3 linked regions of the Homo sapiens genome follow. The protein of the gene in region 2 purifies or fractionates together with the protein of the main gene of each other region. This does not show direct contact. Each region holds a gene or a part of one and is shown on either strand. Other genes may lie near its edges.

Region 1 (10,821 bases), on a different chromosome or scaffold from region 2:
TGGGAGCAGAGGTTCCTGGAGGGGAAAGAGGATAATGTCACTTCCTGAGGAAGCGGGAAGAACCCATCTGAGACGTGGGGACTGTGCTGGTTCGTTTCTAAGGGGCCTTCCAGATCTCACATGCCAATCGTCTTGGTCTATGTCAATTGTTGGGGCATCCAAATGGGGAACTGTTGTCCAGGCCGATTTCACAGAACAACCGCCCAGTCCATATCTCCCGAGCCATTCACCCTTGCAGTGGCGTTAGCTCTTTCACCAGCTTTTATCTGCCCCGTGGGGATGTTGGCCAAGCCCAGTTAACAAGCAGTTGATCAGCCCCAGAGATCAGGTCCCTGGAGTCTGTCACTTTTCTGAGGGTGGGGAGAGAATCCTGGAGCAGAACATGTAACTAGAAGGGCCACCTGGCTTCCTATGGTCTGAGGGAGAGAATGGTGGGATCTCTGGCCTGAATCAAACCTCCCTTTCTCAGTGTCCATCTTACCTCTCTGCTGTACCTTCGTTATTTTCCAGCAGCTCCTCAGCCCGTTCCTGTGGGACCCTTCTCTGCCAATCCCTACACCCACTGTAAATTTCACCGTGGGAGGGAGATGGGCCTTGAGGGCTGTATTAGTCTTCTATTCTGCATAACAAATTGCCTCAAATTTAGCAGCTTCAAACAACTCATGTTTATTAGCTCATCGTGAGTTCATCAGCAGTGTGGGCCCAGCATGGCTAGGTTTTCTGCTCAGGGTCTCACAAGGCTAAAATCAAGATGTTGTCTGGGCTGTGTGCTCATCTGGAGTTTAGGGTTCTCTTCCAGGCTCACGTGGTTGTGGCAGAATTCTGTTCCCTGGAGTTGCAGGGCTGAGGTCCTGTTTTCTTGCTGACTGTCAGATGAGGGCTGCTCTCAGGTCCTCGAGGCTGCCCACATTGCTTGCCACGTGCGTGGTCTTTTCCATCCTTGAAGCCAGTGATGGAGAATTTCCCTTGGATTGAATCACCCACATGGTTGGACTCTCTGACTTCAGGAAGAGAGCCCTGTCTCTTTTATGGGATCACCTGATTAGATCATACCCATAGAGGGCAGTTCCTTTTCCTTAAAGTCAACTGTGGCATGTAACATCACACAACCACAGGAGTAAAATCCATCATATTTACAGTCCCAGGGATTATGCACAGTGCACCAGGGGACAACTGAATTCTGCCTGTCAAAAGGGCCAAGCAGGACTTTATTGGTGAAGAACAGTGGAATGTCATTCTTGGTTCTTCCAGAAAAAAATCACTCAGTAAAGTTAGAGGTTCTCTTGCCTTTTGGGAAGTCATCAAAGAATCTCATGGAGGGTTTGGACCTTCACCCTAGAAACATCACACCATGTTTTCTATAATTGCAGGGTTCATGGTCCCTTGAAGCCTATTCATAGTTTCCAGGTTGAAAAGCTCTGCTGCAGGGTGTGGGGAGGGATGCAGGTGGAGGTGAGGGCTGAATAGTGTGAGCTGCATATCTGGAGCTGTGGTGGTTTTTTTAGTCTTTAAGCTGTCATGTGTTGGGGGTTGGGCATGGGAGGGGCATCCCAAGAGCTCCTTGGTATTGACACCATCTCCAAGGTGATCTCTGCTCTGCCTGGTGCACACATGTTTTTCTCCTGTTGCAACAGCCCACTCTTGTAGAAGAGCAGACCCCTCAGTACCAGGTCTGACCCTGGACAGCTTGTACCAGGAGCTACAGCACACTCCCCCACAAGCCTAAAGTTGGGATGAGCCCCCCGAGAATTAGATCAGAAAAGATTAAATGCAGAGGTGATCTGTCAGGTCCCCTTTGGAAGTGCTGGTATGGAGAGGATTGACTGAGTCTGTTTAGGAACCTCCAAGCTCTGTAGTAACTTTAGGGCTAGAAAGGAGGATGCCTAAGATTCAGGATCCTGCAGTGATGAGTCAACATTTCTTGGGGAAGGAGGCAGGGCTGAGGATTAAACGGAGATGATGGGTATCGTTCTCTTGCTCAAAGGCACTGGACCCCAAGGCCTCCAGCTCTTCGCTCCCATTTGAAATTCAAGTCCTGAGCACACCACAGTTGTGATGCAGGGAAAGAATGTGCTTATCAGAGAGCCTGGGCAAGTGGGCCCCTTGTGAGTACCGTTCAACCTCATTTATGTCATTGGCACCAAAAGTAGACATCAGTCTCTTGAAAGTTTGATTAATGCTGGTCACACTCAAAGACCCTGGGTAGCATTCATTTACTAAGCAATTACTAAATACCAGTTTCTGTGCTAAATGCTGCATCAGTCAGGGCTCTTAATGGCAGGCAGCAGAAACTCTCCTTGGCTGATCTAAGTAGAAAAATCCAGGACTGAAAGGAAACGGAGTAGCTCATGAAATTGCAGGAAGGGCCGGAAAACCAGACATGGAGCCAAAGTCAGGCTGCAGAACAGGTCTAGGGAGGATCCCACTGCTGCTGAGACCTAGACCTTGTGTCTGGCACCCAGGATGTTGTAGGGCTCAGACCCTGGATCAATGTATCCTGCAGTGCCTCTGTGGGTACTGCAACTCCAGGAACTCAATCTTGTCAACGCCACCGCCAGAGAGAGGCCTTCTTGGCCTCCATCTTTTTGGTCACTAGCTCCAGATTCAAAATCTTGAATAGATGCTTCTTCTCTTTGATAGAGCCCAGTCATATGCGTTAGCTGCAAAGGAAGCTGAAAATCTATTAGGAACTTTTGTCTTCAAAAATGAGAGGCCTGTCCTCCACCAAGATCCATAGGAAATGGAATCCAAGAAACCACAGGAAGGGGTGAGGTGACTGGGCAGCTCACAGCATGCATGCTACATGTGAATTATCTCATTCATTTCTCACACTACCCAGTGAGGTAGGTATTGTCATCCCTACTTCATAAATGATGATATGAGGTACAGAAAGTTTAAGGAACTTGCCCAGGACACGACACGCAGCTATTAAGTGCTAGACCCAGTCAATTTGAGTCTGACTTGGACTGTCTGACTCCAGAAGCCACCCTCTCAGACACTGCTGTATACTTCCAGTGAATGTTGATGAAATTTTCAGGGTTGCTAAGCTGTGGATTTCAGATCCTGGATTGTATGACCTAAAAGAGAGACTTCCCTAGGAGTGAGGGTCCCTGAACAGTCAACTGGTTTCCAAGAATGGGCTCCCTCTCATCACCTTATGACAGTAATCCTCTGTCCAACAGCCAAAGAGGTCCTGTGGGGAGGGCTTGCAGATGGGAGTGCGCAGAGCCCAGCTCAAAGCTCCTGACTAGGCTCTTGTTGAGTATTCCTTTGATTCCTGCTTCTGTCTTTTTAAATCAATGGAGACAGGGGAGGGTTATCTCCATCCTCGGCTCAAGATGAAATGCATCGTTCCTCGTTTTTCTCATTCCTTCCCAATGTGTGTACTGTTAACTTTAGTTATGAAGGAAATTACAGTGTCCTGTGCATATACCAAGGCTGTCCAACCTCCACACCTTTGCTCAAGCTGTTCCTTCTACTTGAAATGCCTGTTTCCTTCCCTTCTAATTGCATCTTTCCATCCAGGTAGGAATCAGCTCCTTGGTTCATGGAGCCTTTTCTGCTCTGTTTTACTATGCATGGACTTCCTTCTGAATTAGCAGAGGATGTTTCCTAGCTTGGTCTTAACCCTTCTCCTTTTGTTTGACCTCAATTTACTCATCTTACAAATTAGGTTGTAAGCTAATTGAATACAGGATCTATGCTTCACTCTGATTTTATCTCCACCTGGATAGCATCATTTTTGACACACAAGCAGGCATATGGGAGGGGAGAGAAGTTTGGTGCCAGAAAGAACTGGATTTGAATTCTAACCCTGTTGTTTACGTGAGTACGTTACTTAACCATTAATTACTTCAATGTATATTTATTAAGTACCTACTATGTGCCGGGCACTGTACTAAGCACCAAGGATACAATGGTGAGTAAAGAGATGCAGCCTTCACCATCACGAAGGAAGACAGATGTTAATCCATTAACCAAGTAATCTCACAAGAAAAGTAAAATGACTAACTGATAAGGACAAGCCCCTGGAGCTACAAGAGGGTGTATACAGGGCATCGATCCAATAAGGGCAGTGTTGCGGGGAGATCAGGAGCCACACAGAGCCTGGGTTGTCTCACTTGGAAAATGGGGTATCAACCACCTACCTCACTAGGTTTTTAAAATCAGGTTAAATGAGGTAATACTTGCCATGAACAGTATTTTGTTGATTGATGATTGATTGAAACGGAGTCTCACTCTCTCGCCCAAGCTGGAGTGCAGTGGTGCAATCTCAGCTCACTGCAACCTCTACTTCCTGGGTTCAAGTGATTCTCCTGCCTCAGACTCCCAAGTAGCTGGGATTACAGGCAGCCACCCCTATGCCTGACTAATTTTTGTATTTTTAGTAGAGACAAGGCTTTGCAATGTTGACCAGGCTGGTCTCAACCTCCTGACCTCAAAAGATCCACCCACCTCAGCCTCCCAAAGTGCTGGGATCACAGGCATGAGCCACTGCATCCAGCCACTTGCCATGCATGGCATTTAAAAATGTTCAGTAAATGTTACCATAATGAAGGCTGGTAGGTTGGCCAACTGAGTGGTCTGATTCAGAAGGAAAGAAGTTAGACATACGTGAACATTTCCTGTACTTGAAGATCCTCAGGACAGTGACTCCTAGACCCATCTTCCATCACAGTCAGCTGGGAAGCTTTTAAAAAAATGCAGACATCTGACCTTCACGCTAGACCTATTAGCCAAGCAGAAGTTTCTGGGCAGGGCATCTGCATATTTTTAAAAATCTTTAATAAGGCAGCCTCAAAATTACAGATTCAGCACGCATTTACCATAACCACTGAAGAAATGCAAAGTTATAAAAAGAAGATAAACAACAATCTGTCTCCTGCTTTCTTCCCTCTCCTCCCCTGCTTCTGGAGGCAACAAGGTCAACTATTTGGTGTGATTCCTTTTAGCATTCCCTCCATCAATGGTCACATAAGGATGCTCACAGATAAGCACCTATGCGGGGGTTTTTTTTTTCCTTGTAAAACTATTCACATACTAAATACTTTCCTCAGTATCTTGCCTTTTTTCACTTCATGTCACAGAAACATCTCTTCAGGTTTATAGATACAGGTCCAGCTCTTCTTTTCATAGCCATATAACATTCTGTAGAATAGAGAGGACACATTTTACTCAGTGTCCGATTGATGGATATCAATATTGTTTTCATTTCTACAAATAGTCAAGGAATAACATAACTCTGTAAAAGTTTTATTACTTATAGGCGCATTTATGCCTAAAGGATAGTCTCAAAAGAGTGAAACTGATCAAATGTGCATTTTTTTATTTTAATAGGTATGGACAGATTTGTTCTCAAAATGTTTGTGGCAGTTCAAAACACCAGTAAAACAGGGGAGATATGTATTTTGGAAAAGCACCCAAGGCGATTCTGAAGTGTAGCCCAGGATAAGAACCATTGCCCAGAGCTGTTCCAGATGGCCCCTGGGTTCCTGAAGTGGGTATCGGGAGAGAAATCTTCACTGAATGAATGAGTGGGCTCCCCAGGGAAGTGATGAAATGGTCCTTATCAGCCTTGCTATCTCCCTCTGACAGAGGCAAACTCTCTCTCCCTGGGGGAAGTTCCTCCAAGGCCTCTATATAAGAAGTCTTTGTGAGAGGAAGCAAAGAAGGACCTGGGCTTTGGGAAGATCTAAAGACCCAGGAAGGTCTCTGGGTGGGTGAGTGCTTTCTCTGCTGTGGTGGAGCTGGTGACAGTTTATTCTCCCAGGAGGTCCCTGGCTGTGGCTGACAGTTTCTGGAGGGCTGGCAGGCGTCTACCTGTGGCTTTCAGGTTATGAGGATGTCAGCAGGGGCAGCCTTCATCCTCTGCCTTGCACATTCCTTCTGCGGGATGTGAAAGTGCTCCTTGGCTGGGGAAAGGAGATGGTGGAGACATGGAGGAGGGTGTGGGTGGCTTCTTGAACTCTGAGGAGGGGACATACCTTCTAAGTCCTATGTGTTCCTAGGAAAGCCAATAATCATTGCTTCTCCCGCCTTTTTTATGTCATAGACTCTGAGGGACCCATTAAGTACAAACAAATAAGCGTAATAGTCCCTTCTTTACTTCCGGGCCTGAAGGAAAGCCAGCCTCAGCCACCCCTCAGGGTTTGCTGCGTTCTGTTTAGAAAGAGGTCCTTGCGTCCTGGATCCTGGAGCATCAGGAGCTGGGCTTGGCATGAGCTTTTCTGGCCCATCCTGATTTCTATTCAGGCCTTCTTTTTCTCCACCTCACTCCCACGGTCCCCTAATGGTGTGATTGTGATGTGTGTGCATGTGTGTCTGTGTGTGTCAATGACAAACTGTGTTCTCCGTTGCAGGATAAAGCCAAGATGAAACTCCCCTTACTTCTGGCTCTTCTATTTGGGGCAGTTTCTGCTCTTCATCTAAGTAAGTGTTTTTTGCCTTCAGTCTTTCTTTCTCTGTTTTTTCCCTTTCTATGGTAGATGGGGTCAGAGTTACACACCCACCCCCTTCTTTGATCGTCTTCTATTTCTGAATTTCTGTGTGCTTAAAGGGATGGGGACTCTATGGCCAGGAGTTGAAAGGATTTCTCAAGGCGTCTGTTATGTCTGTGGTCTTGGTTCTACTGTGACATTCCCAATTTTGTCCTTTCTCCATTATGCTTACTTTGAGCTTACTGAGTGCCTTCTCTCCTTTAACTCTCTTAGCATCGCCATGAAGTAGGTGGTATTGTATACCCATTTCACAGAAATACAGCTGGTGGATGATGGAACCAGTACCCAAGCCCATGACTGCCCGACTCTAAGTCCATGCTCTTAACCACCTTGACCTTGTCAGGCAGCTTGGGTTCCCCTCATAGAGACTGGGTTCCAGGTTCCCCTTCCCAGGCAGAGTTGAGCACTCTGATGCCCAGGGCAAGGTGTGAGCTGTCTGTGGTTCTGGGGAGGAACAAGGGGAGATGTGAAGGAAGGACACTTAGCTATCCTCCCTGCCAGGGTCTGAGACTTCCACCTTTGAGACCCCTTTGGGTGCTAAGACGCTGCCTGAGGATGAGGAGACACCAGAGCAGGAGATGGAGGAGACCCCTTGCAGGGAGCTGGAGGAAGAGGAGGAGTGGGGCTCTGGAAGTGAAGATGCCTCCAAGAAAGATGGGGCTGTTGAGTCTATCTCAGTGCCAGATATGGTGGACAAAAACCTTACGTGTCCTGAGGAAGAGGACACAGTAAAAGTGGTGGGCATCCCTGGGTGCCAGACCTGCCGCTACCTCCTGGTGAGAAGTCTTCAGACGTTTAGTCAAGCTTGGGTGAGTGGCCTATGGCTGAGGCTGAGGTGGGAGCATGGAACGGGTGTGGGATATGCCCCCAGCATTGCTATCACTGGCTCTTTTTCCCATTGAGGGCCCTGGGGGTGTCAGTAGAACCTGAGCCTCAGAGAGGTGTTGGGGTAAGAGGGGAGGGCCACCTACAAACAGAAGTTGCATTTTGGTCTCCAACCTTCAAATGGTTGTGGCAGGGGAGGGAGGGAATGAATTGTGGGGACTCAAGACCCATGTGAATTCATGTAGGAAGGATGCTCCATTCTTTGTCTTTTATCCTGCCCTGTAGTTTACTTGCCGGAGGTGCTACAGGGGCAACCTGGTTTCCATCCACAACTTCAATATTAATTATCGAATCCAGTGTTCTGTCAGCGCGCTCAACCAGGGTCAAGTCTGGATTGGAGGCAGGATCACAGGCTCGGTAAGAGAAGTGTGAACACTAAATGGGGTGCACCTGCTGATCTCAGCCAGCACTCAGCTTGCATCAGATTTGTCTGTTTTTCTCCTGTATAATCTCCAGAAGAACCAGGGATAGATGGACACCCACAGACAACACTGAGGGGGCTGCCTGGGCATTCAGGGAAGAGCTAAGGATTTAGAATCAGGAGGTTTGGGTCCAAGTTCCTTTCCATCTCTCACTATCTATGTAACTTAAGTTAGCTGGGCATGGTGGTGCATGTCTGTAATCCTAGCTACTTGGGAGGCTGAGGCAGGAGAGTCACTGGAACCTGGGAGACAGAGGTTGCGGTGAGCCGAGATGGAGCCATTGCACTCCAGCCTGGGCAACAAGAGCGAAACTCCGCCTCAAAAATAAATAAATAAATAAATAAAATAAAAAAAAAATTAAAACAAGACCATGAGTTTGTTTCCTCATCTCTAGGATGAGTTGGCAACCCTTGTTCTACCTTTTGTTAGGGCTGGAAGGACAAGCCTGTCACTGGGATGCATAGAATCTGATGGTGATAATTGCCGTGGATCAGCATTTCAGATGACTAGGACAGTTCCCATCATGGTCCAGCAGGGAAGGGCCCATTGCCCGGTGGGCAGCAGAAAGAGCTGGCAGATACGGGGCCAGGTCTGCTTCTCTGCCTTCCCTCTGCCCCATCCCTTCTTCCCCTCTTGCTTTCTCCAGGGTCGCTGCAGACGCTTTCAGTGGGTTGACGGCAGCCGCTGGAACTTTGCATACTGGGCTGCTCACCAGCCCTGGTCCCGCGGTGGTCACTGCGTGGCCCTGTGTACCCGAGGTGAGGTGGGGCTGGGGATGAACGATGGAAAGGTCTGGGAGATGGGAAGTGCCCCAAGGAGGAGATGCTACAAAGAGCCTGACCCTTTGTGGGAGAGGCTTCCTGGGTCTTTTATATACTCTGACTCCACAGCAGTGTGTGGGTGGGAAAAGAGGCCCTCCTGTGGGTTGAGTTGGGATGGACAAGAGGCTGAAAGTCCCTTTCTGTTCTGCCTTCACAGGAGGCCACTGGCGTCGAGCCCACTGCCTCAGAAGACTTCCTTTCATCTGTTCCTACTGAGCTGGTCCCAGCCAGCAGTTCAGAGCTGCCCTCTCCTGGGCAGCTGCCTCCCCTCCTCTGCTTGCCATCCCTCCCTCCACCTCCCTGCAATAAAATGGGTTTTACTGAAATGGATTTATTTTCTCCTCTGATCGCGGATCCACTCTGCTTAGCCCTCATTGAAACTTCTTCCTTATCATCTCTCCCCACACCACAACTTTCATAGAAGTGTCAGAAGCTACTACTCCTTGAGGAGGAGGATGGAGGGTGGAGTTGGGTCTATGGAGCCTTTTGGAGATGGAGGAATGGGCTCAGCTAGTTCTCTTCATAGAACACCTGATTACTGGGCACCTGCATAGTGCTGCCAGGACCTTTCAAGGTTGTAGGTAGACTCCCAATGGCCCAGTTTGCATCTCTGTAACCAAAGGCCTTTTCTCTCTCTCTCTCCAACCCCAGAACTGTGGTTGGTTTTATATGTAAGGAAGTTAACATGTCCCTGGGAACAGTCCACAACATTCAGGAATGAATGTATAAGTACCGCAATCCCCGGCCCCTCAAGTGGAATAAATCTAACATGTATTGGGCACCATTTCCCAGTGGCCTGCTGTGGTAGTTGGCCTTATTCCATGCATTTTTATGGGCTGCCTTCCCTTCCTCAACTGCATTCTCTGCTCCTTCCTACTCTCTGCAACTCCCAAATAAACACTTGTACGCAACTCCCTCTCTCAGGATCTCCTTCTGGGGAAACCTGATATAAGACAGCTTGCCATGCGTCAGACTCTGAATGAGGCCTGGGAATACAAGACATAGTCCTCTGGCACTTGGGATATATGGTTATTTGTAACATAGGCACAAAAACATCTACTAGTTGTTATCGCTTATTGAGCACCCACAACATACCCCCTGCTGTGGCAGGCACCTTGCCTAGATGACCTCATGTGATCAATAATTATGAGCCCTATTTTACAGAACCAGGCTCAGAGAAGTTAGGATCTGTCAAAAGACTTGCCCAAGACTGAACCTCTAAATGCAACTCATATTGAAATTCAACTCTGCTCCAAAGCATGTTACTTTAACCCTTGTGCTTTTACAGCTGGCTACTCTCCCCTTATGGTCACACGGGGATGAAGCACGGGGGGAGGAAAGCCAGACTGTCTCACTCTTGGGTTCATCTTGGGACACAGGACACCAGCCCAGCTGGAGGTGAGGGAGCTTTAATCAGAGGGGAGGGAGGAAGGCATTCTCAACCCCTTCTGTACTAGGGAGGTCAGCAGAAGAAAATAATTCAATGTTCTAAAGCCATTTTTTTCTCCAGCATTCCTCCAATTCATAGATCTTCATATGGGATTAGGGGCTCAGAGAGGGGTGAAACAAGAACTCTATTTTTTTGGAGTGTGGTATAGAGAAGGGATGCTACTTCTCTAAGGTCACATAGTAAGTTGAGAAAGAGAGAGAAATCAAACTCAGGTTCATTTCAACTATTGTTCCACAAGAATCTGTTGATTTCAAAGATGGTGGACTATGGGTTCATCCCTGTGGTGAGTGCTGTGAGGATGCAGCTGAGGTGGAACTTTCACTCCTTGCCCTCTTGGACTTTATATTCTGGTGTGGAAAGGCATTGCTTCCCTTATTTCAATATTAACAACAAAGGGTAATAATATTTCCCATTTATTAAGCATTTACTAGGTGTCAGGTACTGTGCTAAATGTTAGGTGAACTTTGTCTTGTTCCTCATAAATCTCTGCCGCTGTGGGTGTGTACTTTGACAGAAGTTTGACTTCCAGTCCACAGAGATCTTCTTTGGGGGAGTAATATCAAGAAGGGGCACGAAGGAAGCTGCAGGGCTCCTAGTCCCATCCTGTATCTCGACCTAGGCATGTTTACATTGGTGCATTCACTGTGAAGTTTCCCTGAGCAGTCCACTCTATAGTGTGCTTTATAGGAGCACATTGTACATCCATTGAAAAATTTTTCTTGGCCGGGCACGGTGGCTCATGTCTG
Region 2 (9,737 bases):
CTTCGCCAAGACTGGGTGAGGGCCAGAGGGGCTGGGCGGGGCTGGGCGGGGCCCTCCCTCCTTCACATGGCCGCCGTTCCTCTGTTAAGGCACTCACTCTGGCCTGCCCTCTTGCTCGAGTGAAACCAACCCAGACACCTCTGTGCCAGGCACGGAGTTGAGCGTTGGAGACTCAGCAGTATCAGACAGAGAAGCCGCTGTCCTTTCTGGGGAGTTGGGGGCCCACTCAGTGGCTTTGGCTTGGCGTCTGTCTCTCCCTCCTCCTTGCCTGATCCCCCCTGCCCGACCCCCCTAGGGCTCTGCATCTCTGGCTGACTGCTCAGGTGTGTGTGTCTGAGTGTGTGTAAGAGTTTGTGTGTCTCTACTTCTGTCTCTGTCTCTCTGAAAATCCACTGACAGCTCTCCACCTCCCTCTGCTGCTCTCTTTTGTCTGCTTACTTTTCGCTTTCTCTGGCTGCCGGCTGATTTCAGCCTGGCTGTGTATCTGTCTCTGGCTGTCCCTCCCGTGTCTTTGACCCTGTCTGTGTTTCATTCAGGCTCAGCTTCTGCTTCTCCCTGGCTATCTCTGTGTGTGTCCCTGCCCCTCTGCCCGCATTTCTGGCTGTCTCTGCCAGTCTGTCTCCATCCCTATTTGCCTATTTGCCTGAAGAGACAGGCAGTTTCTCTGTCTCTTCATATCCATCTGTGTCTCTCTGCCTCTGTGACTTTTTCTCTGGCTTTCTTGCTGTCCCCCTGTCTCTCTGCATCTCTGTCTGTCTCCCTGCCCACTGCCATCCACCCTCCTTCAGAGCCTTGCCCTCACTCCTCCTTTCCCTGCCCTCCTGTGCCCACAGGGACCCCAACCAGCCGGTGCCGCAGGATACCAAGTTCATCCACACCAAGCCCAATCGCTTCGAGGAGGTGGTGTGGAGCAAATTCAACAGCAAGGAGAAGCAGTATCTGCACATAGGCCTGAAGCCACGCGTGCGTGACAACTACCGCGCCAACAAGGTGGCCTTCTGGCTGGAGCTCGTGCCCCACCTGCACAACCTGCACACGGAGCTCTTCACCACCACCACGCGCCTGCCTCCCTACGCCACGCGCTGGCCGCCTCGTCCCCCCGCTGGCGCCCCGGGCACACGCCGGCCCCCGCCGCCTGCCACCCTGCCTCCCGAGCCCGAGCCCGAGCCCGGCCCAAGGGCCTATGACCGCTTCCCCGGGGACTCACGGGACTACTCCACGGAGCTGAGCGTCACCGTGGCCGTGGGTGCCTCCCTCCTCTTCCTCAACATCCTGGCCTTTGCTGCCCTCTACTACAAGCGGGACCGGCGGCAGGAGCTGCGGTGCAGGCGGCTTAGCCCACCTGGCGGCTCAGGCTCTGGCGTGCCTGGTGGGGGCCCCCTGCTCCCCGCCGCGGGCCGTGAGCTGCCACCAGAGGAGGAGCTGGTGTCACTGCAGCTGAAGCGGGGTGGTGGCGTCGGGGCGGACCCTGCCGAGGCTCTGCGCCCTGCCTGCCCGCCCGACTACACCCTGGCCCTGCGCCGGGCACCGGACGATGTGCCTCTCTTGGCCCCCGGGGCCCTGACCCTGCTGCCCAGTGGCCTGGGGCCACCGCCACCCCCACCGCCCCCCTCCCTTCATCCCTTCGGGCCCTTCCCCCCGCCCCCTCCCACCGCCACCAGCCACAACAACACGCTACCCCACCCCCACTCCACCACTCGGGTATAGGGGGTGGGTGGGGAGGCCCTCCTCCCCGGCCCTCCCTGGCCCGGCCACTCCGAAGGCAGGGAGGAGGACTTGGCAACTGGCTTTTCTCCTGTGGAGTCGTCACACGCCATCCAGCAGCGCTAAGGTGGACATGGGATTCCTCCCTGCGATGCGTGTCTTTCCCACGCAGAGAAGCCCAGTCTCTTCTCTGGATCTGGGCCTTTGAACAACTGGGGGGCGTTTTCTCCCCCCCATTGGGACACCAGTCTTCGGTGTGTGGAATGTGGTATTTTCCCGCGTGGAGGTGTGCTTTCTCACAACGGGGTGTGTTTTCCCATGTGCAGGGTGAGGTTTTTTTTTGCCACCCTGGACACATGTTGGCCCCCTCAAAGAATTTCTGTGGGGATTTGTACCCCAGAATCCTGTTCCCCCATCCCTTCTCCCACCTCCTCCCCTCTCCCTCCCCCTGGAGACCCTGGAAGTGGTGTGTTCACATACAGTGACCCTTGGCCACCAGACCACAGAGGATGGAGCCTGGGAAGCAGCGAGGAAATCACAGCCCCCTCGCCCCTGCCTCCCTTGCCCCTACCCCGGCGAAGCATGTTCCCCCCGACGCCCCCCTTGGCACAAGTCAGATGAAGCACGTTCTGCCGGGGAGGCCCTCACCTTCCAGAGAGGACAGACACAGATTTCCTGCTGGGGGAGGGAGGAGTCCACGCATCCTGATGCTGCCTGGAAGCTTATTTTCCCGTGGCCAGGACGCATTTCTCTGAGTGGAAACAGGTTCTTGCATGTGGATGTGTGTTTCCCCAGGCAGACGGCCCCTCTCTTCCCAGCACTTCCCTGCCTCCCCCAGGCCTCAGGCCCAGCACCCAGTTCCTCCTCACATGGCAGGTGAGCACAGACTTCTAGTTGGCAGGAGCTGAGGAGGGTGAACAAACCCCGAGGGAGGCCCGGCCCTTGCTCCCGAGTTGGGGGGAGGGGGTGTGGCAACGTGCCCCCCGCAGAGGCCACGCATGTTTGACCAAAGCCCTCATTGTGGTCCGAGGACAGCCTTTTCCCCAGGCCTCAGAGCATTGCTCATCCGTGCCAAACTGGGTAGGTGGATTTGAGCGGAAAGACTCCCAAAATGTGCCAAGAATTTCCCAGTCCCAGGCAGGGCAGGGGAAACTAAGGGCAAGCAGGATACAGGGCGAGGGATGTGGCAGGTGAGGGGGCTCCCGCCTGTGCCCCTTCTCCTCACCATGTCTCCCCCACCCTGCCTCAGTTCTCCGTTCCCCTTCATCTCCGTCCCCCTCTTTGAAGCTGTCCCCATCTCAGTGTCAGACCAGCCTTCTCCTCAGCTGACCACCCTCCTCTGACCCACGCCCCCTCCTTGTCTGAAAGAAAGGAGCCTTGAATGGTGGAGGGAGGCAGTGGGGAGAAAGGTCTCACCGGACAGGTTGGGAGAATGAGGTCAGCGGTGCTGGGGAACAGATGGAGGGGGCAGTGGGGACAGGGCTTGGGCAGACACCAGCAGGAATAATTTGAAATGTGTGAGGTGACTCCCCGGAGGGCCTTGGGCTTGGGCATTTGGGAAAAGAATGATGTCTGGAAGGGCTTAAGGGACACAGTGGACGAGGGGAGAGTCCTCATCTGCTGGCATTTTGTGGGGTGTTAGTGCCAAACTTGAATAGGGGCTGGGGTGCTGTCTTCCACTGACACCCAAATCCAGAATCCCTGGTCTTGAGTCCCCAGAACTTTGCCTCTTGACTGTCCCTTCTCTTCCTACCTCCATCCATGGAAAATTAGTTATTTTCTGATCCTTTCCCCTGCCTGGTCTAGCTCCTCTCCAAACAGCCATGCCCTCCAAATGCTAGAGACCTGGGCCCTGAACCCTGTAGACAGATGCCCTCAGAATTGGGGCATGGGAGGGGGGCTGGGGGACCCCATGATTCAGCCACGGACTCCAATGCCCAGCTCCTCTCCCCAAAACAATCCCGACAATCCCTTATCCCTACCCCAACCCTTTGCGGCTCTGTACACATTTTTAAACCTGGCAAAAGATGAAGAGAATATTGTAAATATAAAAGTTTAACTGTTGGTTGTGCCTGCTCTGTTGTGGGGAGGGCGGTCTCTAAAGAAACAAGCCCTGGGGAAGTGACGAGGGAGGAGGGGTCTTTTCAGTGACCAGCTCTGAGGTCTGAGAGGAAGGGGGAGTGTGTGCTGGGGTCTGGTTGCCATGGTAATGGGTCTGTTTGGCAAATGAATGTCAGGACCCGTGTCTATGCCGAGACTGGAGCCTGGTGTCGTTCTATAATGGAAGGACAAAGGCTGATGGGGGCAGATGTCAAACAGGCCAGAGGCCCAGTGGGCTGGTGTAGGCAGCTAGCTCAGCAGAGGTATGTGAGGTGAGAGGCATGGCCTCTGCCAAGGCCTGGACTCAGGCGAGAGGGTCAGCCACGGGTCCAGGACTCAGGGTAGCCCCTTGGCACACTGGAAGGGAGTGGCCTGGCACCATTGTGACCCGTTCACTCCCAAGACCCTCAGGGACAGGCAGGCAGTCAGTGGACACTGTCGGCACGGTGGGCTGGGGGCGTAAGGGCCCCGGTGGTCCTAGGGACCCCATGGCCATGGTTGAGCGGCCGAGGCCCGAGTGGGCCTCGTATCACAACTGCAACAGCAACAGCTGCCAGGACCTGGGCAACTCTGTCCTGTTGCTGCTGGGCCTCATCATCTGCATTAACATTAGCATCAATATAGTGACCCTGGTCAGGGTGGGGCCAGATGGGAGGGAGCTGGTGGGATAGTGGGGGGCAGGCCTGCCGGCCAGGGCCTACCTGGGATCACTGTGTCTTCCCCCACCTAGCTCTGGAGCCGATTCCGTGGTGTCTTATACCAAGTGTTCCATGATACCATTTGTGAGAAAGGTAAGAGGTCTGGGGGCTGGGACATAGGAGGGGCAGAAACCAAGTGCTCTAGCCTCAGCCCTAAATTAGCCCCTTCCCTTCTTGCTCGCCCCTCTCAGACAACATAGCTGTGTGGCTGCCCTTCCTGGGCCCTGCCTCTCCATGCCTGTAGGAGCTGGCCTCCCCACTAGTCTCACCTCTCCCCCATCCACAGAAGCTCCCAAGTCATCATTACTCAGAAAGCAGACCCAGCCCCCTAAGAAGCAGAGTTCTCCTGCAGTCCATCTTCGGTGCACCATGGACCCTGTGATGATGACTGTGTCCCCGCCCCCAGCTCACCGCCATCGCCGTCGAGGCTCTCCCACACGCTGTGCTCACTGCCCAGTAGCTTGGGCTCCTGACACTGATGACGAGAAGCCTCATCAGTACCCAGCCATCTGCTCCTACCACTGGGATGTCCCTGAGGACTGGGAAGGCTTCCAACACACTCAGGGGACCTGGGTTCCCTGGTCTCAGGATGCCCCAGAGTCCCCTCCCCAGACCATCCGCTTCCAGCCTACCGTAGAGGAAAGGCCCCTCAAAACAGGCATATGGTCCGAGCTGGGCCTAAGGGCCTATGTGTATCCTGTGAACCCCCCACCTCCCAGCCCTGAGGCTCCTAGCCACAAGAACGGTGGGGAGGGGGCGGTGCCAGAGGCAGAGGCGGCTCAGTACCAGCCTGTCCCAGCTCCCACCCTGGGCCCAGCAGTCATCCCTGAATTTTCCCGGCACCGCTCCTCAGGCCGAATAGTGTATGATGCCCGGGACATGAGACGGCGGCTTCGGGAACTGACCCGGGAGGTGGAGGCCCTGTCCGGCTGCTACCCCCTAGCCTCTGGATCCAGCACTGCCGAGGAGACAAGCAAGAATTGGGTGTACCGTTCCCTAACTGGGAGGTGACTGGAAAAAAATAAAAAGGAGAGAGGAGGTGATCTGTGGTGGTGCTGGGGTGCCAGGGCCCACACAGCACCTAGAAGCTGTGGCTGTGAAGAGAATGCTCTCCCTAGCCACAGGGCCCTGAGCCCTGAGGACCCTCATTAACCTTTTGCCCCACAGGCCTGTCCCTGTCCTCAGCCTTTCCTAGGCCCTTCTGGGTTCCAAGGCTCTTACCTGCCTCTACCTTGTTTTCAATTTTTTTTTTTTTTTGAGACAGGGTCTTCTCTGTTGCCCGGGCTGGAGTGCAGTGGTGCAATCACAGTTCACTGCAGTCCCAACTGTCTCCCACCTCAGCCTCCTGAGTCACTAGGACTACAGGCATGGGCCACTAGTTTGTTGTTGTTGTTGTTGTTTGTTCGGTTGGTTGGTTTTTGTGTGGGGGGGGTTGTTTTTGTTTTTAAGACAGAGTCCTATTCTTGTCACCCACACTGGACTGCAATGGCACAATCTTGGCTCACTGCAACCTCTGCCTCCCAGGTTCAACCAATTCTCCTGCCTTCAGCCTCCTGAGTAGCTGGGACTACAGGCGTGTGCCACCATGCCCTGCTAATTTTTGTATTTTTAGTGCAGATGGGGTTTTGCCATGTCGGCCAGGCTGGTCTTGAACTCCTGACCTCAGGTGATCCGCCCGCCTCAGCCTCCCAAAGTGCTGGGATAACAGGTGTGAGCCACCCCACCCCAGCCGCACCACTATTTTTTGTAGAGATTGGGTTTCACTACTTTGCCTAGGCTGGTCTCAAACTCCTGGGCTCAATCGATCTGCCTGCCTCAACCTCTGAAAGTTCTGGGATTACAGGTGTGAGCCACTGTGCCCGGACTGTTTCCTCCCCCTCCCCTGAGGCAGGGTCTTGATCTGTCACTCAGGCTGGAGGGCAGTGGTGCAATCATGGCTCACTGGAGACTCAACCTCCTGAGCTCAAGCAGTCTTCCTGCCTCAGCCTCCTGAGTAGCTGGGACAACAGGCACCACCACGCCCAGTTAATTCCTTGTTTTCTTTAGTGCACAGAGAAGCCCCTAAATTCTACCCCAGGTCCCCAGGCAGTCGTGCACTAGAGGAGAGATCTCCATCTCCATGGCCCTAGCTCCTCAGAAGGCTGGTGCCTGCCAGAGCCCAGCGTTAGGCTGCAGCCACCGGTGAGGCCTGGTTCCCACGTAAGCCCTGATTTATTTGGGGAGGGATGGCTGAGAGGGCGTCTAGTCCTTCACAGTTCCCCAGTCACCCTGAAGGTCCTATACCCTTAAGCAGGATTGGAGCAGAGGAGGAAATATTGGGGCCCCCTTGGCTGGGCGCAGTGGCTAACGCCTGTAATCCCAGCACTTTGGGAAGCCGAGGCGGGCGGATCACGAGGTCAGGAGGTCGAGACCTCTTGGCTAACACAGTGACACCCCGTCTCTACTAAAAAATGAAAAATAAAAAATAAAAAAATTAGCTGGGCATGATGGTGGGCGCCTGTAGTCCCAGCTACTTGGGAGGCTGAGGCAGGAGAATGGTGTGAACGTGGGAGGCAGAGGTTGCAGTTAGCCAAGATGGCGCCCCTGCACCCCAGCCTGGGCGACAGAGCGAGACTCCATCAAAAAAAAAAAAAAAGGCCGGGCGTGGTGGCTCACATCTGTAATCCCAGCATTTTGGGAGGCCGAGGCGGGCAGATCACAAGGTCAGGAGATTGAGACCATCCTGGCTAACATGGTGAAACCCCATCTCTACTAAAAATATGAAAACAAAAAATTAGCCGGGCGTGGTGGTGGGCGCCTATAGTCCCAGCTACTTGGGAGGCTGAGGCAGGAGAATGGTGTGAACCCAGGAGGCGGAGCTTGCAGTGAGCCGAGATTGCACCACTACACTCCAGCCTGGGCAACAGAGCGAGACTCCATCTCAAAAAAAAAAAAAAAGAAGAGAAATATTGGGGCCCCCCTCAAGAGGTACCTCACTGTAACATCACAGCTCTCTGTGACCTCACTCCTTTGATTAACTCACCATGTCACCAGTGAGGAGACTAAGTTCAGAGAAGCTAAGGGTCTTGCTCATGGTTACACAGACACTGAGGATCAAGCTCATGGCCTCAGATGCTCCATCCCATTGCTGCAGAGCCAGCCTGACCCACCAGAACCTCCCACCTTCCCCAGTTCACCATGTGAACTCAGAAACTGAGAAACAGAGAAACTCAGGCCCTGCCTTTCTGCTACACAATTGGGATCATATGCACATGCACACACATACCACTTGAGAACAAGCAGCTGTGTGCGTGAGCCCAGGCTGAGGGAGCTGGACTTCACCTTCCACTCTAGACAGATTCCTGGAATGTGAGCAGACGGACCGTTTACAAATGGCCCTACTTCTCTCATTCAACTAACGTTACTGATCATTTTCAATGGATTCCATTCAGTGGAATCTGAATCTACTCTGCATCTACTCTGTGTTTGGAGGCTGGATGGGATATGATCACTGGCCTTTCTTTCTGCTGAGTGGTTCACTGTGTAAACAAATGGCTTGCAGTCTCCAGGGCACCACAGACCCCAGTGATGCACCTGTTTTAAGTCAAACACTCTTTTTGGTATATTAACAATTACATGTATTTTGTGCTTTGTTAATTTCATGTGGTTTTCTTGTTGTTGTTGTTGTTGTTGTTGGGTTGTTTGTTTGTTTTGAGACAGTCTCACTCTGTCACCCAGGCCGGACTTCTGTGGCGCGATCTTGGCTCGCTGCAACCTCCACCTCTCAGGTTCAAGCAATTCTCCTGCCTCAGCCTCCCAAGTAGCTGGGATTACAGGCGCCCACCAACATGCCCAGCTAATTTTTGTGTTTTTAGTAGAGGTTTCGCCATGTTGGCCAGGCTGGTCTCAAACTCCTGACCTCAGGTGGTCCACCTGCCTGGGATTATAGGCGTGAGCCACTGCGCCCAGCAAGTTTCCTTCCTTCCTTCCTTCCTTCCTTCCTTCCTTCCTTCCTTCCTTCCTTCCTTCCTTCCTTCCTTTCTTGTTTTTTTGGAGACAGATTCTCGATGTGTCACCCAAGCTGGAGTACAATGGCGAGAGCTCAGCTTGCTGCAACCTCCACCTCCTGGGTTCAAATGATTCTTCTGCCTCAGCCTCCCGAGTAGCTGGGACTACAGGCGCGCATCACCACACCCAGCTAATTTTTGTATTTTTAATACAGACGGGGTTTCACTATGTTGGCCAGGTTGGAACTCCTGACCTCAGGTGATCCAGCCACCTCAGCCTCCCAAAGTGCTGGGATTATAGGCATGAGCCACCGCGCCCAGCTCGGGTTTTCTTCAGGTAGTAGCTTAACCGTTTTTCACCTTGGAGTAAGGGTGGGTTGGTGGGAGTGTAGGTGGTTAGGTTGGAGAAACCATGGCTGGGGTTGGTTCCCAGCAGAGGCAGCCACCTCAGTGAGTCAGATGTCAGTGTGACGAAGTGGCTGGTGGGCTCAAGGACCACCAACACCTAGGGCTGGAGTCTGGCCAGGAAGAATTGGGCAGAGATGGGAGCTAGAGGACTTTTGACAGGGAAATGGGCAGAGTAGGGAGGGGCTGGTACAGCAGGGTGATGCCTGAGGGGACGCAGTGTCACCCGCCCATCTAGTCACCCTAGATGCTGGCCCCAAAGTAACCATGGGGCAAGGCACGCCAACAGGCTATGTAAGTTGCCATAATGTCTCAAAAGAACAATGAAACAGGACATATCTGATGCATGCTTCAACCCTGTGACGACCGTGTCAGCCTCTAACTACCCTATCTTCAGCTCAGGAACCAGCTGTGGGGTTAAGCAAACCTCGTGGAGATAGAGGAACAGACTGAGATCTGGGATATGTGGGGACCAGGCTCCACCAAGTAGGAGCCAAGGGTGGAGATGGCGGTAGAAGGGGCCAGCAGAATGGATAAAAGCTGCCACCTCCACATTGTGACTCTCGCTAGCTCACCTCATTGTGACCTGGCTCCCTTACCAGCTTGTAGTTATCTCCGGGGATTGGCATGAGTGCAGTGTGGGTTGGGGCCGGGGGTGGGGGGCAGAGGGGGGTGGCCCAGGTGGCCCTAGGACCCCCCCTCCATGGAAAACCAGCTATGGCATAACACCGTGAGATGTTGCAATCAATACCAAGAAAGCCCCCACGATGCCGAGGACATCTTACTCCTGCTGCTGGGCCTCATCGTTCTTGTCAACATTGGCATCAACGTGGCAACTATGGTC
Region 3 (10,611 bases), on a different chromosome or scaffold from region 2:
TCTACTTTCCTAGCCCCAACAACCTGCTCCGGCTAGGAGAAGTTCTTCCTAGCCACTCCCCACCCCAACGCCCTGCCCAAAACTCCGAGGACACTGAGGTATCTGCCTGAGCTGTCCACTACGACGGCTCCCGGGCCACGCCCGGACTCGGCGGCCCGCGGGGCGGTGACCCCCGCAGCCGCCGGTGCAGCCACGACGGGGTTAAGGTTCCGGGCTGGGGGAGGGGGAGGGGGCCGGGAGGGGCGGGTGCGGAGCCAATCGGCGGCGGCAGAGTCCCCGGAGCCGCGAGCTGGGAGCGCTGTGCCGGGAGCCGGGAGCCGAGCGCGCCGGGCTGGGGCCGGGGCCGGAGCGGAGCGGAGAGGGAGCGCGCCCGCCCCAGCCCCGAGTCCCGCCGCCTTCCCTCCCGCCGCAGCGCGGGCCCACCGGCCGCCGCCCCAGCCATGGAGCAAGACAACAGCCCCCGAAAGATCCAGTTCACGGTCCCGCTGCTGGAGCCGCACCTTGACCCCGAGGCGGCGGAGCAGGTGCGGAGCAGGGCGGGGCGGCAGGGCACTCGCCCAGCCAAGGACGAGGGACCCCTGGACTGGTGGGACCCAGGATCCCTGCCTAGTCCTCCCTTAGCAGTGCGCCCTTTTGAGGACGAACGCTCAGTTTGCGGGGGGCGGGGGGGGGTCTTCTGTCCCCTCCCCCACCGTCGGAGCCACATCTCGAATCTGTGCTTCTTTGAGACTGACCGAAGGAAGAGCGCCTCCACTCGATGCCTGGCCCCGCGAGAGTCGCTCTCTTCCTCCCCAGTCCTGGGGGAGGGGGCCTGCTTGAGGACACGACCCCTCCCTCCTTAAACAACCCTGCATCCCCCACCCAGTCAACCCCCACTAGAGTTTCTGAGCTTGGTGGTGGCGCTGAAGGGAATCAGCAGCAGTGCGGGAGGGGCCTGGGGAGGGGTCGGTAATGGAGAGGGAGCCTGGAAGGGTGGGAGTTGGAAGAGGAGAAACAGCTCTCCCTGTCCCCTCCTAACTGGGGGCCACCTTGCTGGGCTCCGAAAGTGATAACAGGAAGGGACTGAGGACCACTGAGAGGGCTGGGGCTCCAGGGAGAGGGGAGAGGGGTGGTCGAGTTGTAGGCTGAGGCTCCCTTCTTCAAGTCTCCGCACATGGCCCTTATTCCCAACTCCTGCCCTTTGGAGTGGGGAGTCCAGGTGGGACTGAGCCAGCAGCACTGGGAGGCCAGAGGTGGAGTCTTTCCAGGGGCTGGGGTCCAAGCTGAACAATATGCAAGGGAGAAGCACTGTGACAGCCTTGGCTCAAGGGGTGGGAGTCCAGGGCCCTGGCCCAGCCTCCTAGCCTGGTCTATTTTTAGCTCAGAGCAGCCTGGCAGAGGGGGCAGTGTATGAGAGTGTGTGAGCAAGTGTATGCCTCGGTGAGAGTGAGCGTATGTGTGGAGAGGGTGGCCACCCGTGGTCCTTACTACTCCTTGTTTGCCAAATATTTGCTTATTTGCCTATTGCTCCATCTCTTTGTAATCTCTGTCCATTTGCCTAGACATTCCCATTCCTAAAGAATATCAATTTCCCACAAGGTCAGTTCTCTGTTTCTCTCAACAAGCTGCCAGGCTCTGGCTGGCCACCCCCAACCTGAAAAAAACTTTGTGACCTCTTGGGATGAGGTGGAGAGAGTGTTTTTTGTCATTTTTGTTGCTCCAGCTGTTTGGTAGAATAAGGTCTGATGTGAAGGGAAGCGGGCAGGGGTACACACTCTCCCTACCACTTCAGCTTCCCAATGTGGAGATAGGGTTAGGTACCTGCGTCTCCGTCCTCTCTCTGGCCTGGGGTGAGCCACCACCTCAGAGCTCTAAGGTGTGACTACGGGAAGGCTCTTGGTGAAGCCTCACAAATCTGTAGAGGATGAGGAGGATGGAGAGCCATCAGCATGGGTTGTGTTCCCTGGGAGTCAGGGGAAAGGCTGCTATGCCTGGAGGCAGGGCATCAGCCAGGATAACCTCAGACCCAGGAAAAAGGGCTCAAGAGTCTGGACTGTGGAGGTTGGGGATGCAGTTCCAAGGAGAACTGCCTCCCACTGGCACAGACAGGGCCCGACACCTGTATCTGTTGGGTGTTGGAGGAGGCAGGTGTAGTAGGTGGGTAGGGAGGAGGAGGAGGAAGGCCAGCTGGTTCAGGGATCTAGGAGACAAGGGAGGGGCACAAGGCAATCCTGAGGAGTCAGAGGGAAAAAAGAGAGCCGGGACTTGGGCCTACTTTCACTAATCTTCAGAATTTGTGTCTCTTAGGCCTGAAATTCTTCCTGTGGCCTAACCTCAGCCCCTCCTGCTGTGTTAGGCAAAAAGCTCCAGGCTTGGCAGGTGCTCCTAACCCAGACCAACATGGGAGGGCAAAAGGAGTTGGAAGCTCTGAGTTATAGAGCACAGAGTGGCAGGCGGTGGAGGGGTGCCCACAGCTTCCAGATCCTTGGCATGACTGCTTTGGAAAGAAATCCGAGGCGAAGTTATCACATGCTCCTGAGAGCTAGGATTTGGGATAGGTATGAGAAAAGGAAAAGAGACCATCTACTTATTTCCCACTAGTTCAGGTGCCTGGGAGGTACCTCAGGAAGTCTGACTTTCCTCCTTCCTGCTGTAAGGGTATCACGATTCCCAAGGACTCTGAATGCTTAGAAACCTTGTCCAAAGCAAAGGAATAGGTCAAGGAAGTGATGTGTCCAAGACCAGACAGCCCTGCTGCCCTCTGTCATACTTGCAGTCTCTTTCTTGGGCTCCCCACTCTGATGTTATCTCAACCCACTGATCGCCACTCCACCCTCCTTGTCTCTTTCCTACTACCACCACCACACCCTGCCCCTCCAGGATGGAAAGAAGTAGAGGAGTCTTCTAGTTGAAGGATGGCCCCCACCCCATATACATGAAGCAGATGGTCCCCAGCCCATGTGTATCAGGAATGACCAGAGACGACTCACAGTTAATGTCTGTGCGGCTCATCCATGTGCACACTTACACACATACACAAAGGACTGGTACTGCGGGGACCTTGCAATGTCACCAAAAACAGATGCCACTGAATTCTCCTGGGAAAATGATGCCCTACCCCCACATACCCCCATTCTTTGCATCCTGTTTCTTCTTTGGAAAGAGTTCCCCCCTCAGGCTTAAACAGCCCATCTTACCATAGCCAGTACCCCCCACTTTTCTGGGCATAGAGAGGGGCAGTGTTCACCTCTGTCATCCCCCCACGGCCAGTGGTGATGATTCTAAATAATGGACATGCAAAGATAAGGGTTTGATCATTCAGTGTCCTCATCCTACTCCTCTCAGCCCAGGATAATTCTAGCCCTTTTCCCAGCCCCATTTGCCTTCCCTCCCCACTGCTAACCTAGAGGGTCATCCTCTAACCCCCATCCTTCCACTTGCTTCCAAGCCTCTAAAGCCTCCAGAGAAAGGGGGAAAACTACACCTCCCAGGAGTCCTTGAACTGACTTCAACAACAATCAACTTTATTGGCAGCGTGACAAAAGAACAACAGTGGGGGGAAAGGGGGCTCAGAGGCAGGGCAGTCAGTCAGCTTTATATGTTAATTTCTTAGACTAGGACCTGGAGCCTAGGATAAGATTTTTCAGCTACGCTTTGGGCCCTGACCAGGGTCCTGCCTAGGGCTCCTCCTTGTATTGATATTATATCTACCATGACAAGGATTCCCCCAACCCCATTTCTTGACAAATCAGAAAGGCAATGTATCCAAGGACAGAGAGGACATTAGGGAGTGAGGGGCACAGGCCAGAGGAGATGCACGTTCAGATCCTCCTCTGTGCTGTCCTCCCAGGCTGGGGGGCGCTTGAAAAGGATGCTCTCTCCAGGCGCTGTCACACAAAATGTTAACATCTTGCTTGGGGAGTGGGTTAGAACACTGAGAGAAAGCCCTGTGCCCTCTTAAGTTATTTCTGACCATTGATCCAGGATGGACGGAAGGACAGCAAGCCAGAGATCAATGCATTAGAGCAGATATGCTTAGATGGAGAGCTGGGGCCAGGACCAGGGGGAGGTGGAGAGACAGAACAGGGGAATGGGGGCATGCAGGGAGGCGAGGTGGTCTTCTGGATCCTTAGGATTAGCTCTCCCCAGGGGAGGGGGAGGAGCCCAGGGATGTTCACCCTGGTTCACCAATGTAACATGGCATTTTTTTTTCAACTTTTATTTTAGATTCAGGGGGGTACATGTGCAGGTTTGTTACAAAGGTTTATTACATGGTGCTGAAGTCTGGGATATGATTGACCCAGAGAGTGAACATAGTACCCAATAGGTAGTTTTTCAGCCCTTGCCCTCCTCCCTCCCTCTCTTTTATTCCCCAGTGTCTATTGTTCCTATCTTTATGTCCATGAGTACTCAATGTTTAGCTCCCACTTATAAGTGAGAACACGCAGTATTTGGTTTTCTGTTTCTGCATAAGTTTGCTTAGGATAATGGCCTCCAGCTGCATTAACATGGCATTTTTTGAGGTGTGTTAAGTAGGCTAGCCTGGATTATGTTACTGAGTGGTTTTGGGTGGGGCTTTGATGCTTCCACGTGTACTTGACCTCTTCCCCATTTCCCACCTTCCCTCAGATTCGGAGGCGCCGCCCCACCCCTGCCACCCTCGTGCTGACCAGTGACCAGTCATCCCCAGGTAAGCCAAGGGATAGGTTGCTGAAGGGCGTGGGGGCCACTATGGCAGCAGGTCCCAATGAGAAGATGGGCGCTAGATGGAAGAAGAACAGCTCTGAGAAGGCGGGGATGTCCTCAGTACTGAAGGCAGGAAGGTGGTGGCTAGATTGCAGAATATTCTTTGCTTTTGGAAAGATGGAGCAGTTCTAGGAAAGGGAGGGAGACCACCTGGCTCCTAAGCCCCCCAGGAATTGGGGTGGTCAACTGAGTGCTGGTTGCTGCGACAACAGCCTTCCAGATTTCTCCAGCAACTGAGATGCTGCCACCCCCACCCCCAGAGGCAGTGTCAGCTGTGAGGGGGAGGGACCGCCTCCACCAGCTCTTCACAGCCCCCAGAGGGGGAGGGGAAGGTTAGAAGCAGCTCAGGGAGCAGCTGAGATTCTGGTCACCAGCATCCCCATCGAGGTCTGGGGAGAAAACAAGTTCTCAGAGAATGGTAGAGAGCTTGACAGGAGTATGGAAGCGAGGGGGACAGGCTAAGAAGCTAGGCTGGGGTTCAGGATGCCGGGGTCTCCAGCTTGCCTCCAGCTATACCTTCCAGACCCTGCACAGAATAAATTGACTGTCCTCTATCACTGTTCCCTCCTATGCAGGGCTTAGTTCTGGCTGACCCTGGGGTGGGGGAATGATTGGAAAGAGAAAGAGACATGGATACTTCAGAGGAGGAAAAAAAGCAAAAAGACTACAGATCCTGCCTTTGGGGATCTCCAGGTCTGAGGCAAAGATGCAGACGCAAATTGACCACAGAGCCAAGGACGGGACTAGATGCAGAGGGATGGAGGCAGCGGAAGCACAGGAGAGGAGCTTCGGGGAGGAGGTCTGGGGCAGCCATGAGGGCCAAGAGCCTGGGGGCAGATGTGAGGGACAGATCAGGAGGAGCATGGCTGCAGAATCCCCTCCCCTGAGAAGTCAGCTCTATGGGGATCCCTGGTTTCCTGTCCTTATCACCCTCTCCTTTCCCTGTTCCCTTCAGAGATAGATGAAGACCGGATCCCCAACCCACATCTCAAGGTGAGCTGGCCCATCCCACTAAGCCCAGCCCAAAAAACCCCCACATTCATTAGGGGATTATTCCTTAAAACCCTGCCGCCCATCTCTAGGATCTTTTTGACTCCCGCTTCCCTGTACCTCTACCCCCCAAATGTGCATGAGTGAACATATACACATGCACCCCACACACACACACTCACATACACACACACACTCACAGTCTCCTTGCTCACCATTGTCGAGGTGGTTGGGGAAGCAGGCGTTTTCTTACCCCACTTTTTGAAGCTCACACCTACCCCAGGCTCCAATCCAAAAGCCTGGCAAGGCAGAGGAGGAAGGCAAGGGGGGCTGGAGGGCATGGGGGGCTAGAGGGCAAGGGAGGGGTCTGGAGAGCAAGGGGGGGCTGGCGCCCATCTGTGCTCTGTGCCCTTCACAGTCCACTTTGGCAATGTCTCCACGGCAACGGAAGAAGATGACAAGGATCACACCCACAATGAAAGGTTTGCAAGACCCCTCCCATCCCTTTTTCTCCTCTGTGCCTGAAGCTGAAGAGGAGACCGAATGCCCTTTGGAAGGGAGGTCGTTAAATCTGCCTTTATTATGGTAGAACTGTTGCTAGACGAACTGAGGCTGAAATCCCAGTTTTGCCACTGACTAGCTGGGTGATCTGGGAGAAACTGCTTAACTTACTGAGCCTTGAATACTACCTCATTATGGCAGATAAAATAATATATGTGAACTCACCGGCACAGTGCACAACATGTACAAGATACTCAAATTTTTCTTGAATCTAAATTGAGCCTTTCCACCTTCCCCCAGGGAAGACCATGTATCCCAGCAAGTGAGGAGTATCCCTTGTTCTTAAAGCCTCTTCTCCTATGCCTCCCTTATCTGTGAAGAAGAGTACTTTTTATGGTCTAGTTTTCATTCCTCCTTATTGCCAGCTAATGTCCCCTCCTTGTTCAGATCTCAGTGGATGGGAAAGTCAAACACCCAGCAATGTGTGCTGAGCCTTTAGTGGGGCTGTTGAATCCGGAGGCCCACAGGGGAGACGCTAGGCAGTCATATCCAGTGTTCCCTCCCTTTCTCTGTGTCCCCAGAGCTCCAGATGATGGTTGAACATCACCTGGGGCAACAGCAGCAAGGAGAGGAACCTGAGGGGGCCGCTGAGAGCACAGGAACCCAGGAGTCCCGCCCACCTGGGATCCCAGACACAGAAGTGGAGTCAAGGCTGGGCACCTCTGGGACAGCAAAAAGTATGTTCAGGCTGGGGAGGGCCCCAGGCATCCTATTTCCCAGCCCAGCAGGAGGCAAGCCTTACCCACTGCGGGGAGGGGAAAGAGTTGGAGCCTGGGAGAGGCCTAGTAGTAGGCAAAAACTGTCTCAAGGATATGGATCTGTTGGCATGTTCGGCATATATTTGAATCTTCACTTTTCCTTACTGAGTGACACCAAGCCCTCCCAACTTGAACCTCAGAGCCCCACTGTGGCTACATGGGGGAAACCCACCTTCATGGGAACAGCAATCACAGGCTAGAATCCTGGCTCGGCCACTTGCTACCTTACCAGCTGAGAGGCCTTGAACGACTTAACCTCAGGGTATAAAATGATAATGAGGGTGCCTGTTGCAGTGGGTTGTGTGTGACTATTAAATGAGACTGGCTGTTGACACAGCACCCGACACACACAGAGCATGCAATAAGTGGAAGCTGGTAGCAGTGCGCTATGTCCCTTATCCTAGATATATTCCAGAATTCAGAATGCTTCCAATTTTATGAAGATATAGTACATAAACTGTGTATCGCATAGTATTCCCGGCAGAGAACCCTACAATCAAACACATAATATTTCTGCAATCCAGTGAATGGTCTCACTAAGCAGAATAAAGACTAAAAACAGCCTCCTATGAGTTCATGTCAGGTTTAGACACATATTGAGTTTTGTTTTTTAAACTGTAGAGGGTTTATTCTTTCCAATTTGATTGAAGATTTTTTAAAAGTGAACATATAGTAGTAATTGTGATCAAAGAAAACCCTGTTGGTCTTGCCTGATTGCACCCAACTTGGTCCTGGGGCCCTCTCAGGGGCCACTGGGGTATGGGTGCAGTGAGGAGAAGCAGTTCCCTCCCCAACACCTTTATGAATGCCACCTCTTCCTCCCACCCCTATGTTCCCTCCCCAGAAACTGCAGAATGCATCCCTAAAACTCACGAGAGAGGCAGTAAGGAACCCAGCACAAAAGAACCCTCAACCCATATACCACCACTGGATTCCAAGGGAGCCAACTCGGTAAGACCCCAGGGCTGGGCTGCCAGGTCATAGGAGAGGAGGCTAATATTGTGGACAAAAGCAAGGGGCTAATATTTGGAGTCTAGGAAAAGGAAAACAAAGAACCAGCTTCAGTCCCTAAAAAGTTATTCTTTATGGTAAAAGGACTTGTATCTCCTCTGACAGACAAAAAGAAATGGATAGCTGCAGCAAGAAGGATTGAGATTAGACTTTGTGTAGGACTTCTGGCTCCTGGAATGGGTGAGAGCAGTAGGCCATGGATTTTTTGATAAAGGGGATTTGGAACCCGAAGGGAGATCCTCACCTGCCCAGCTGAAGTGGGCAGTGGCTCTCCCTGCCTGGAGGATGCATTGATGAGATAACTTCCTGAGCTTTGATTTCATAATCCGCAGCCCCCTGCATAGACTGGACACAGGAAGGACTGCTCTCAGACATCAGAACAAGCTTTCTGAGACATTAGATGTTGACAAATGGGATGGCCAGAAGGGGAAGGGACAAAATGACCCTCTGGCCTCTCACCTTCTCTTTCTGTCCCCTTTCCCCCATAACAGGTCTGAGAGAGGAGGAGGTATCTTGGGATCAAGACTGCAGTTTGGGAATGCATGGACACCGGATTTGTTTCTTATTCCTTCACTTTTGGGGAAAATCTCTTGTTTTTAAAAAGTGATAAATTTGGTGTTAGGTCCTTGGCACTTTCCTTCTTTTCCAACTGGGAGAATCCTTTCTCCCTGCCTTCTTGCCCTGCCCTCTCTGTAGCCCCCACCCTCCTGCCAAGCTGCCTCTGGGAAGGAAGAAACAGGAGCTAGGCAGAAGCCTTGAGCAGGGAAGAGTTCTTCCCTTAGCCCTGACTTTACTTGCTGTGGGAAGAGAGATGAGGGTCAGATAGGTGGGAGGACTAACTTCCAGGGTGCCAAGAAGGAAGAAAAGCCCCAGGTTCTCTTTTCTTATTGAGGAACGATCCGACCACCTCACAGGCCTGCCCTGCAGCTGGAAGACTCGGCGCTCTAAGGCCTGTGCCGTGTCCAGCTGTGACTGTGCGGTGGGCTCCATCTGCTGGACAAAAGGGGAACTGCACCATGGCACTTGGCCCATGGGAAAGAGGGTATGGTGGTGTGCCGATACCTCCTCGCCTGCCCTCCAAGCCCCAGCTGCCTTCCTTTTGGATTCCCAAGCTTCAGGATGTGTTCCCTCTTCCAGCTGTGGGACCGCTGTCCCTTATTTCAACCCGTTAGCAACAATGGATAGAGAACACAGTGGCTATTAATGAAGAGGCCCATGCTGGAGACTGGAAGGGTTCCCTTGTCCTAGACATTGAGGGGCCCAGATAAGACCAAAACCAAGCATAAGAGAAGAAACTGTCTCAGATCTCACGGCCAGGCCTCTCTCCTGCTGCTGTTTTTGATTTTCCCAGGTAGTGGGAGAGAGGAAAGGAGGGAAGGCAAGATTCTTTCCCCCTCCCTGCTGAAGCATGTGGTACAGAGGCAAGAGCAGAGCCTGAGAAGCGTCAGGTCCCACTTCTGCCATGCAGCTACTATGAGCCCTCGGGGCCTCCTCCTGGGCCTCAGCTTGCCCAGATACATACCTAAATATATATATATATATATATGAGGGAGAACGCCTCACCCAGATTTTATCATGCTGGAAAGAGTGTATGTATGTGAAGATGCTTGGTCAACTTGTACCCAGTGAACACACACAGTCAGGCCTGGTCTCCCTTCTTTATTGTTCTCTGGCTATAGCAGGGGTCTGGGAAACCAAGGGCAGGGGTGAGTCACATGCGTCTCTGCCCTTCTCGGGGTGGGGTAGGGTGGAAGTACCAGGGTAGCAGGTCTAGGAGACCATGGATGTGGATTTCGCATGAACAGGGCCCACTGTACAAATGCATGGTTGGTATTTACAAGAAAGAAGGAGGGCAGTCACCTGGACTTTGGCCTTTCCTGGGGCAAGGTGGGGGCAAGGAGGAGCCTGAGGAGAGGAAGGGGCACCGCGCCTGGCTGGGTTCTCTCCAGAGGACAGGAAGGCAGCAGCCCTGAGCCCCTTGTCCATCTGCCTTTCACCGACTACCCCTCACTTGTCTCAGGGGAGGAGCTTCTTAGTGCCTGCAGCTGGGCCAGTTCTGGGACGTGGAGAGGAGGGGACAGACCCTCTCTTTTAGCAATGCAGGATTACTCACCCTCCCCAGGCACCCTTGACCCTAACCCAGCTGGTGTCGATACATTCTGAAGGTGCTTTGCTGGGGAGATCCTCAAAGCACTTTACAGACATTGGTCGGATGGAGCCTCCCAGCCCCAGGGGAGAGGAAGGAGGCAAAGGGCTCCGGACTCAGGGCAGGCGACAAGCCCCAGGGGCCCAGACCAGTCCCAAGGAAGGTCCCAGGAAAGGCCTCCCGCAGCCCCTGGTCACAATGGCTCCTTTTGCCCCAGTCACTGTATCAGAAAGGGAGGGAAGGAAGATTCAGAGGATCAGGCTGGAGATGGGGCTGAAGCAGCGCAATTCTGGGGTGAAGAGGATGTCCTCTCCACCCCATTCCCAGGTCCTAGAAAGGTACCATGCCCTGAAGGAATCCACTCCCCTCCCCACACATAGGGCTCTGAAAACCCCCAGCTTTCTATCCTATTCCAGCCCT

The links.
Region 1: the proteins of SPEM1 (region 2) and PRG2 purify together in Homo sapiens (affinity purification with mass spectrometry; 2 studies listed by BioGRID and IntAct, with this or other methods). This does not show direct contact.
Region 3: the proteins of SPEM1 (region 2) and PPP1R1A purify together in Homo sapiens (affinity purification with mass spectrometry; 3 studies listed by BioGRID and IntAct, with this or other methods). This does not show direct contact.

Annotation. Positions count from the first base shown.
Region 1 is NC_000011.10:57,385,495-57,396,315, reverse strand, and holds PRG2 (bone marrow proteoglycan isoform 1 preproprotein), read left to right. Parts: upstream 1-5,665; 5' UTR 5,666-5,720; exon of another isoform or gene 5,721-5,833; intron 5,834-6,359; 5' UTR 6,360-6,371; coding exon 6,372-6,429; intron 6,430-6,998; coding exon 6,999-7,306; intron 7,307-7,607; coding exon 7,608-7,739; intron 7,740-8,450; coding exon 8,451-8,562; intron 8,563-8,782; coding exon 8,783-8,841; 3' UTR 8,842-9,536; downstream 9,537-10,821.
Region 2 is NC_000017.11:7,416,093-7,425,829, forward strand, and holds SPEM1 (spermatid maturation protein 1), read left to right. Parts: upstream 1-4,231; 5' UTR 4,232-4,292; coding exon 4,293-4,436; intron 4,437-4,534; coding exon 4,535-4,595; intron 4,596-4,788; coding exon 4,789-5,513; 3' UTR 5,514-5,540; downstream 5,541-9,737. Other genes in the region: NLGN2 (neuroligin-2 precursor), read left to right, coding at 1-15, 834-1,707; uncharacterized protein SPEM2, read left to right, coding at 9,597-9,734. UniProt on the Homo sapiens protein: Required for proper cytoplasm removal during spermatogenesis.
Region 3 is NC_000012.12:54,578,318-54,588,928, reverse strand, and holds PPP1R1A (protein phosphatase 1 regulatory subunit 1A), read left to right. Parts: upstream 1-269; 5' UTR 270-440; coding exon 441-524; intron 525-4,608; coding exon 4,609-4,669; intron 4,670-5,680; coding exon 5,681-5,718; intron 5,719-6,133; coding exon 6,134-6,197; intron 6,198-6,797; coding exon 6,798-6,953; intron 6,954-7,878; coding exon 7,879-7,985; intron 7,986-8,536; coding exon 8,537-8,542; coding exon of another isoform or gene 8,543-8,645; 3' UTR 8,646-9,683; downstream 9,684-10,611. UniProt on the Homo sapiens protein: Inhibitor of protein-phosphatase 1. This protein may be important in hormonal control of glycogen metabolism. Hormones that elevate intracellular cAMP increase I-1 activity in many tissues.